2 separate regions of the Homo sapiens genome follow, and region 2 is linked to region 1. Evidence: fine-mapped expression QTL. A gene starts in region 1. The other region holds a variant in brackets. All regions are shown on one strand. Distances are between the middles of the regions.

What was found. PIP is the estimated chance that this variant, and not a neighbour inherited with it, causes the effect.
Region 2: its variant is the best candidate, but not a certain one, in a credible set for the expression of WSB1 in whole blood (TOPMed, PIP 0.77).

What each region holds. Positions count from the first base shown.
Region 1 is chr17:27,292,034-27,296,430 of GRCh38, reverse strand. WSB1 (WD repeat and SOCS box containing 1) reads right to left here and starts at 2,317. Exons shown (of 9, transcript NM_015626.10): 1 at 1,996-2,317. The coding sequence starts at 2,035. MIR4522 (microRNA 4522) reads left to right here and starts at 2,435; the gene lies at 2,435-2,521. RefSeq lists enhancers at 2,039-2,098, 2,109-2,168, 2,539-2,588 and a silencer at 2,289-2,498.
Region 2 is chr17:27,110,961-27,115,357 of GRCh38, reverse strand. No RefSeq gene overlaps it. Among named protein-coding and RNA genes, the nearest start is that of MIR4522, 180 kb to the left of the region's middle. The variant G/C (reference allele first, on the strand shown) is at 2,566.

The sequences.
Region 1 (4,397 bases):
CTACGCAGAGAAATGTTCAACCTTGTATCCAAATGATAATTCAAAAAAAGAAACAAAGAAAAAAACTGGGGTTAAAAAAAGCTCAGAAAAAGCAAAAGTTCTTCTAGATATCTGGCACTTAGCTAGTAAGTTTTTATAACGTATCCAGGAAATAACACTGAGACCTAAATATGAAAAAAAAAAAGAAAGAAAAGAAAAGAGAAATCAGGGGGCTAGTGGGGGAACACTTAGTGGATGGTTCTACTTTATGTAGGTATGCTATCCATCTCTATCCATCTCTTAGAAAACAAAACCGGAAATCTGGGCGGGGTGGCTCACGCCCGTAATCCTAGCACTTTGGGAGGCAGAGGTGGGCGATCACCTGAGGTCGGGAGTTCGAGACCAGCCTGACCAACATGGAGAAACCCCATCTCTACTAAAAACACAAAAATTAGCCGGGCGTGTGCATGCCTGTAATCCCACCTACTCAGGAGGCTGAGGGAGGAGAATCGCTTGAAACCGGGAGCCGGAGGTTGCAGTGAGCCGAGATCGTGCCATTGCACTCCAGCCTGGGCAACAAGAGCAAAAACTCCATCTCAAAAAAAAAAAAGAGAGAGAGAAAACAGGACCGCAAAGTTTTCAAAATGGTTTATCAGGATGAAGTAAAATACAGATTTAAAAAAAAGGCAGATCACTCGTCTATAACATTATGGTGTACTAAAGTAAAAGAAAAACCCACTGGACTGATAAGAACTTTTGAGTTCTTTGTCCCACTTCGCGACATACTTTCTAGTCTTAAAATACAGTTAAAATAATAACTGGACACAAATTCTGTGTTCTTTGCATCTTTTTTTTTCTTTTTTCTGTGTGAACTCTGCTACAATTTTTTCCCTTTTTTTTCTGTGTTTGTATCTTTAAAAATGGTTATTAAAACCAGGGTTAAAGTCCCTTCCTAATCAATCATCCCTAAGACAACAAAAGTCCAGAATTCTAAAACAGCTGTTTCTAGATATAAAAATTCACCCACATACAAAATAGTGCGCGTTTTGGCTACTTCAGCCTCTTCCCTTCTCTAGAAATAACTCCTCCTTGTACTTAGTAAAGGCACACATTCACTTCAAGAGTAGGAAAATGTAAATGCTCTCTGCTCAGCGGCCGCAGCTAATTATTACTTCACACAGTAAGATCAGTGTTTGCTAAGTGTTATCAGCCAATGTACAGCACCCCCCAACACCGTCAAACGTTGTTCCAGTTATTTTACTTTAAAAGAGGATTTAAATAATGCGACGTGCTTTCCACTGAGCCACTAAGTAGGTGTGGACGCACAACCTTCAACACTAATTGCCCTTTACTAAGCCGACCAGGGCTAGACACTAAGCCAGAAAAGCCTTTTCCAGAGTTTCCTCTTCCGCACAAAAGCTTTCCTTCTGTCACTCCACCCAACCACCCAGCTCCTCCCTTAAGTGTTTGAAAGATAATTCTAAAAGTCTCCTCCCCCGAACCGCTGCGTTTCTTAAGGCCACACCATTTTAAAAATACTGTATTGCTTTTGCCAGGCTGTTGGGACCTCTTCCATCTCATTTCTATCTAAGAGTGGTTGGTACACACGAGGACCCCCTCCTTTCATTACCGCTTACAACCCACAAGTTTACTTTTCCCCATTGTAAACCTAAAGTCCCTGAGTGGCCCTTCCCTGTCCACTCGACAGTCATGCCCTGAGCCAAGAACTCCCAGGACAAGAGCCCTGCGCGGACCTCCGACGAAGAAACCGGGGTCCTTGCCCGCCCCAGCCACACAGCAACCGCGAGGGAGCACAGTAGGTGCTGCATCCACGTCGGTGCCGTTTACCCCTCAGCCAACTCCCACCGAGGCGGCTTCCTCCTCCTCGCTAGTGGGCTGGCCCTGGCGCACTGGAGCTCTTCCCTCAGACTTGGAGTCGCTTCCTCCCAAACCTCCTCCGGGGAGTCCCTGCCTCTCCTCGGCCCTCATGCGCCCACCCACGGTCCCAATCCTCACCGATCTCTTTCTCGTTGACCCTCGGGGGAAAGCTGGCCATCTATGGGGCACCGTCTGATTCCGGGAATACGATGCGGACCCAACAACAGAGAAGAGAGTGGCGACCGCTGAGGGGCGTGACGCCAAGTTGGTCCCTCCCGGGCCCAGGGACAGAGGAGACGGGCGGGGGCGGCCGCTGCGGCTTCTGCTAACTGCCTCGGGAAAGCTCCCGAAGGCCTCAGACCAAAGTACGGAGTCAACCACAGACAATAGACCCTGTACCCAGCCTCGCGCCTGCGGAGGAAGACAGTTCCCCTAAAGCGCCGACTGCAAACGAGACACTGGAGTCAAAATGGCGGGCGGCGCCGGAGATATCTGGGCGGCAGGGGCGCGGCCACGTGACGTCACAGCCCGAGGCCCCCGCCTCCCGACGCACGGGACGTGATCTCCCCGGCCCGGCGCGGGCGTTGCCTGGGGGCCTCGCAGGGGGAGATCCAGCCCAGGCTGGTTCCGCTGACTCTGCCTGTAGGCCGGTGGCGTCTTCTGGGCCTGGATGGTCTAATATGGAGTTTATAAGCTGAAGTGGCTTTGAAAAGGGCAAGCAGAGAATTGTATTATTATTAGCCTCCTAGCTTAAAGATTGCATGGAACTTAAACTGGCTGAACCAAAAGAACAAAAAGACATTTCAGGTTTTCACTCAATTTGGCCAACTCCCCAGCCCACAAGTAATAGGGAACTGAAGGATGCACTGATGAAAAAGACAGGATGAAAATTAACATCGTTGTGCACCACCTGTCCAGCTGCGATTGTTCAGACCTGAGCCAGCAGGTTTTAGGAAGGGCCGAGGGGAACGAGAAGGAGACTCGGGCGTGATCGCGCCGCACCGCGCCGCGGGGCCTCTCTGGACTGCCTTTGTCCTGGCCAAGATGGATCCCACTGTCCTGGCCAAGATGGATCCCACTGTGTCAGCTCAGAATTGGCCCTTCCTCCACCTTACCTGAAGGCCTCTGGGAGGCACCTAGTTGTCCACACATCAGACTGATAAATGTGTCAGTATCTGCTAGATGCCAGCTTGGTTCCCGGTCACAGATGACGTATTTGCATTTTAATGGCTTCTCGTGTGGACCCTAAACATTGCAAAGGCCTGGGGCGTATAAGACTGGGAATTCAAATATGTGGCAGATATTCATGGGACAGAGTAGAGTGTTGCATAGCCGCTTTTTTTTTTTTTTTTTTTTTTTTTTTTGAGACGGAGTCTCGCTTCTCCCAGGCTGGGGTGCAATGGCGTGATCTTGGCTCACTGCAACCTCCGTTTCCCGGGTTCAGGCAATTCTCCTGCCTCAGCCTCCCCAGTAGCTGGGATTTGTACAGGCATGTGACACCAAGCCCGGGTAATTTTTGTATTTTTAGTACAGAGGGCGTTTCACCCTGTTGGCCAGGCTAGTCTCGAACTCCTGGCCTCGAGTGATCCGCCCGCCTCAGCCTCCCAAAGTGCTGGGATTACAACGTGAGCCACCACGCCCGGCTGCATAGCCGCTTTTAAGAGATCTCAAATGATAACACTGTAGGGCATGTTTACTTCATCTTTTCTTTGCATGAGTGTATTAATTCTTCAAATAGCGAAATGTTTAATAAAACATCGCCCCTCCTTTTTTTTTTTTTTGGTTATTTATTTATTTTTTTTTTTGAGACGGAGTCTTGCTCTGTCTCCCAGAGCAGAGTGCAGTGGCGCCAACTCGGCTCACTGCAACCTCTGCCTCCCGGGTTCAGGCGATTCTCCTGCCTCAGCCTCCCGAGTAGCTGGGACTACAGGTGGCTGCCACCACGCCCAGCTAATTTTTTTCATCCTTTTAGTAGGGAGGGGGTTTCACGATATTGGCCAGGCTGGTCTTGAACTCCTGACCTTGTGATCTGCCCACCTCGGCCTCTCAAAGTGCTAGGATTAGAGGCGTTAAGCTACTGCGCCCTGCCTGCCCCTCGTCTTTAAAAAAAAATCACTTTGTTAGGCTGGGGGCGGTGGCTCACGCCTGTAATCTCAGCGCTTTGGGAGGCTGAGGCGGGTGTCAGGAGTTCGAGACCAGCCTGGCCAACATGGTGAAACCCCCATCTCTACTAAAAATACAAAAAATTAGCCAGGCGTAGTGGCGAAGTCCCAGCTACTCTGGAGGCTAAGGCAGGAGAATTGCTTGAAACCGGGAGGCAGAGGTTGCAGTGAGCTGAGGTTGCACCACTGCACTCTAGCCTGGGTGACAAGAGTGAAACTCTGTCTCAATAAATAAATAAATCAATAAATCACTTTGTTAGCTTCAGTCAACGATATCTTGAGGACTCACTCTGTATCAGGCACTGGGCCTAGTTGCTGAATTTTTAGAGTAGAACAAAAGAAAAACTTTAATGCAGTCTTGTAGCTCATGTACCAACA
Region 2 (4,397 bases), 180 kb after region 1:
TCATTGCACATTTCCATCACTCTGAAATTTTAAACTCCTCTAAAGTAGGGCTTCTCAACTTTAATGTGCACATGAATCACCTAGAGATCTTGTTAGAATTATAACTTCTGATTTAGTAGATATAGGGTAGGAGGGTAGAGCCTTCTAGTTGATGCTGCTTGTCTATGTGTCTCACTTTATGAAAGTAGGCTTTATCACAGTGTTTCTAAAGTGTGGTCCCCTGACATAAGCATCATCTTTGCATGAGAGCTTGTTCAAAATCCATATTTGCGGCTCCATCCCAAACTATTGCATTAGAAACTCAGAGATCCCAATTCAGCAATCTGTGTTTAAATAGCCATCCATGAAGCTGGGCATGGTGGCTCATGCCTGTAATCCCAGCACTTTGGGAGGCAGAGGCGGGTGGATCACTTGAAGTCAGGAGTTCGAAACCAGCCTGGCAAACATGGTGAAACCCCGCCTCCACTAAAAATAAAAATAAAAAAATATTACCCAGGCATGGTGGTGGGCACCTGTAATCCCAGCTACTTAGGAGGCTAAGGGAAGAAAATCTCTGGAGCCTGGGAGGCAGAGGTTGCAGATTGCACCATTGCACTCCAGCCTGGGCGACAGAGTGAGACTCTGTCTTAAAATAAAATAGCCATGCATATCACCCTGATGCTTGCTGAAATTTGAGAACCTTGTTTTATAATGTGCTGTAAAAGTTCAGACATTTTGACTTCATTAACTATAAGCTATTACTGAGACTTGGTTTCAGTTAGCTAATCTAGCTGACTATTAATGCCACTTTTCATTGTGGTAGCCAAAACATCACACCCTGAATTCAGGGTGAATGCATTTGTGCAAAAGAATTCAGCTTCAGCAAGTTTTGTATTTTGTTGCCCATTGTCTAACATCTTTAGAATTCACTCCCATGCATGATTTCTAGCTCCCTGCCAATAGTGACAATGACCTATACCTTTTTTTGTTTTGTTTTGAGACGGGGTCTCGCTCTGTCGCCCAGGCTGGAGTGCAGTGGTGTGATCTCGGCTCCCTGCAAGCTCTGCCTCCCAGGTTCACGCCATTCCTCTGCCTCAGCATCCTGGGGAGCTGGGACTACAGGCACCCACCAGCACGCCCGGCTAATTTTTTTGAATTTTTTTAGTAGAGACGGGGTTTCACTGTGTTAGCCAGGATGATCTCGGATCTCCTGACCTCGTGATCTGCCCGCCTCGGCCATCCAAAGTGCTGGGATTAAAGGCATGAGCCACCACGCCCAGCCAACCTATACCTATTTTGTAGTATAGGCTATCTTGTTTTCCTTTGATAGAAACAGAAACATAATTATTGGGGCTTTTCCCTTAAAGGGTTTGTCTACATGAAACTATCCCAAAGATGCCAGAAGTACTCATCAAGTCCCTGATGAGTGAGCTGACAATTCAGTGCACATAGTATGTCTATACAAAATAAAGAAGCAATCATCCTTACATAATGTTTTGTAAAACCAGCTTTTGGTATGTATTTTGCTGTAAAGATCAGCTATTATTGATTTCTGACAAGGCATTTCAATAGAGATATTTTTCACTAAGGCTCCATTTACATGATTCAGCAGTCAACAAAACCAGAGCTGGGGCCGAATCATCCTACAGGAGTTCAGAGAAGACCTACACGTGGATAGCAACAACACGTGATCACAGGAAACCCACGAAGAGAACAATGTTTTCCCAGAAATAAAGGGGTCTATTTCATACATACAAAGGACCTACACTCCAATCCACTGCACAGACAAATAATTTACATCTGCAAAATATATGTATGGATAATGATCCTTCATGTGAAGCTTGAGGCTAAAATATACCAATGACGCATTCAAGGGATATTCAGCTTTAGGAGGTTTCTATCTTGCTATAGCAACTTTTGAAAAAATTAAACATATAATTTTAGGAAAACGAATGAGATCATTGCCACACAGATATATTAAATAAGCTAGGGAAACAATGGAGGATATTACATGTACTGATGGTCGTGGTCTTTAGTATAGGTAAAGCAACTGTGGCCAGTTTTCCCTACGGCGGCCTTCTTTTAGGTTGAACAGTATGAAGTTGCTGCGTTTTGACCAATTGGCACCTCCATGTGGCAGTTTTATGTGTCTTAACCTAATAGTTCATGAAAAAAAATTTATTTTATTCACTCATGGGAGAATCTGTCTTTATTCTTTGCATCAGGAATTAGAATCCAGACAATAAATATACCTATGTGCACATGTAAAATTTACTCTTTTATTATTAGAATAGGTTTTACTTATTCCCACTCTGCATCTTTCTGATTTCAGTAGTTGCAATCTCTAGAGATCACTGTGATTATGGGTAAGATGATAATGACCTTATTCCAGAGGGGGAGTTTGTAACCTAAGCTAAGTCAATAAGCAATACACACAATCATCTATTTGTTCAGAAATGGGTATGTTACAATGGTGGGCTAAACAGAGAGGGGTTGGTGACTGTTGAAAGTGTTATGCATATAAATTTGAAAGTGGAATAGGATAGACTGAGATTATGAGGGAAGACTGTCTTAAAATGAAGTCAT[G/C]ATCAATGAAGTAAAAGCTGGCAGATAGTAATACCGCTAAACTCTTGGGTCAGTCCTTGCCTGAAGCCTGAGAGGAATTCTAGACCTTCAGATTCATAAGCCAATGAATATGCTATATTCTGTGTGGCAATTTTAGTTATGTTTTTATTACTTTTACAATAAAGTATCTTAACACATATGTGAAGGCAGTCATTCTATCTATATATATAAAATCATTAAAAATATATTAACATAAATACATAAATATTATGCAAACTATTGGTAAATTTATTACGCTCTATAGCTCCAAAACAATTTACATTCAAAATCATACAAATATGTGTGTACGTATATATATATATATATACATATATCTTTTATAAGTATTAAGTTGCCACTCTAGAAGTGAAGAAATGCATGTCTTATACACACACACACACATTTGTATGTATACAAATTACATTTCTTCTCTTCTAGAGTGGCAACTTAATAATTATAAAAATGTTATATGCAGCTAGTGGTAATGAGTGCTGGGTTTGGATTTCTGATCTGGTATGTGGATACTAATGCTTTGGGATTCCACTAATGTGTTAGGTGTAAACAGATGTGAGACAGAAGTAAAGTGGTAGGTAGGAGTGATGGGGAATAATATTATTGAAATTCCACATTTTAAAGATTTCCAAATCCTCTGTTACCTTGTGAGGGGAAATCTTCATTCTTAATGACAAAGTTATTTCAGCCATTGATTATATTCCAAGACAGAAGTGCCTCCACTACCAGTTTCTCTAGTTGTGGTATGAACCTCAATATTCAGACAAATTGAATAACAGCTGATTATATCTGACAGGCTTTCAGAGGGCCTGGGGTCAAAAATAAAACCTTTTGAAGTGACAAATAGATGAAATCATTAAAGAAGTGGTACCTAATAGCATGATTCAATTTGTTCTAAGTAAAAAAAGAAAAAAAAAGAAAGAAAAAAACAAAGTGAGCAACAGAAGCCAGAAGCTGTCAGAGGCACTTGATATATTTCTGTGATGGCATTTATAATCTCAAGGGATTGAGCGGGGAGCTTTATGTGGAAATGTGTGTGGGATATGTGTGTCAGAAAGAGAGGGAGAGAGGGAGGGAGAAGAGAGAGAGAAAGAGAGATCAAGACAGAGAGAGAAGTGCGAGAGTGTTTTGTTGTTGATGAAGCAATTTTAAAAATATCACCTCATTTGGGCCTTGCAACAAACCTACACAGTGTGAAGGGCAGTTATTATTATCCTCATTTTAAAAATGATGAAAGGGAGGCTGATGTCCTTAGTGGCTAAATGACTTTAGTACAGACAAATAGCTAGTGAATGGTGGACTTGGGATTATATTTCATATCTTCGGACTGCAAAATCCTTAAAAGTTTTACAACTCCTTCATATTATAATGCACCACTCATAAATGAAATCTAAAAAGCTGCTAATACAGTTTCAAATTGAATATTTTGTCACATCCTAGACTAATAAATCCAGTTGTATCTATATATAGTTATACATATCTCTTCAAATTTCCTTTAGGAGGTAAGATTATCATATATATGTATGTGTGTGTATATATATATACACACACATATATATGCATACAAACAAATTATATATATTATAAAGATATATATCTAGATCTACCTATATATACACTATATAAAGATCTATGATACACACACACACACACACACACACACACACACACACAAAACAAGATTTGTTAGGCTAGGATGTGACAAAATAAATATAACCTGGTAAATTTATTGAGAGAGAAAAGAAAAACTGTGTTTTGTAAATGTGTAAATATATATATACGTCTTAAAGAGATATATAAAG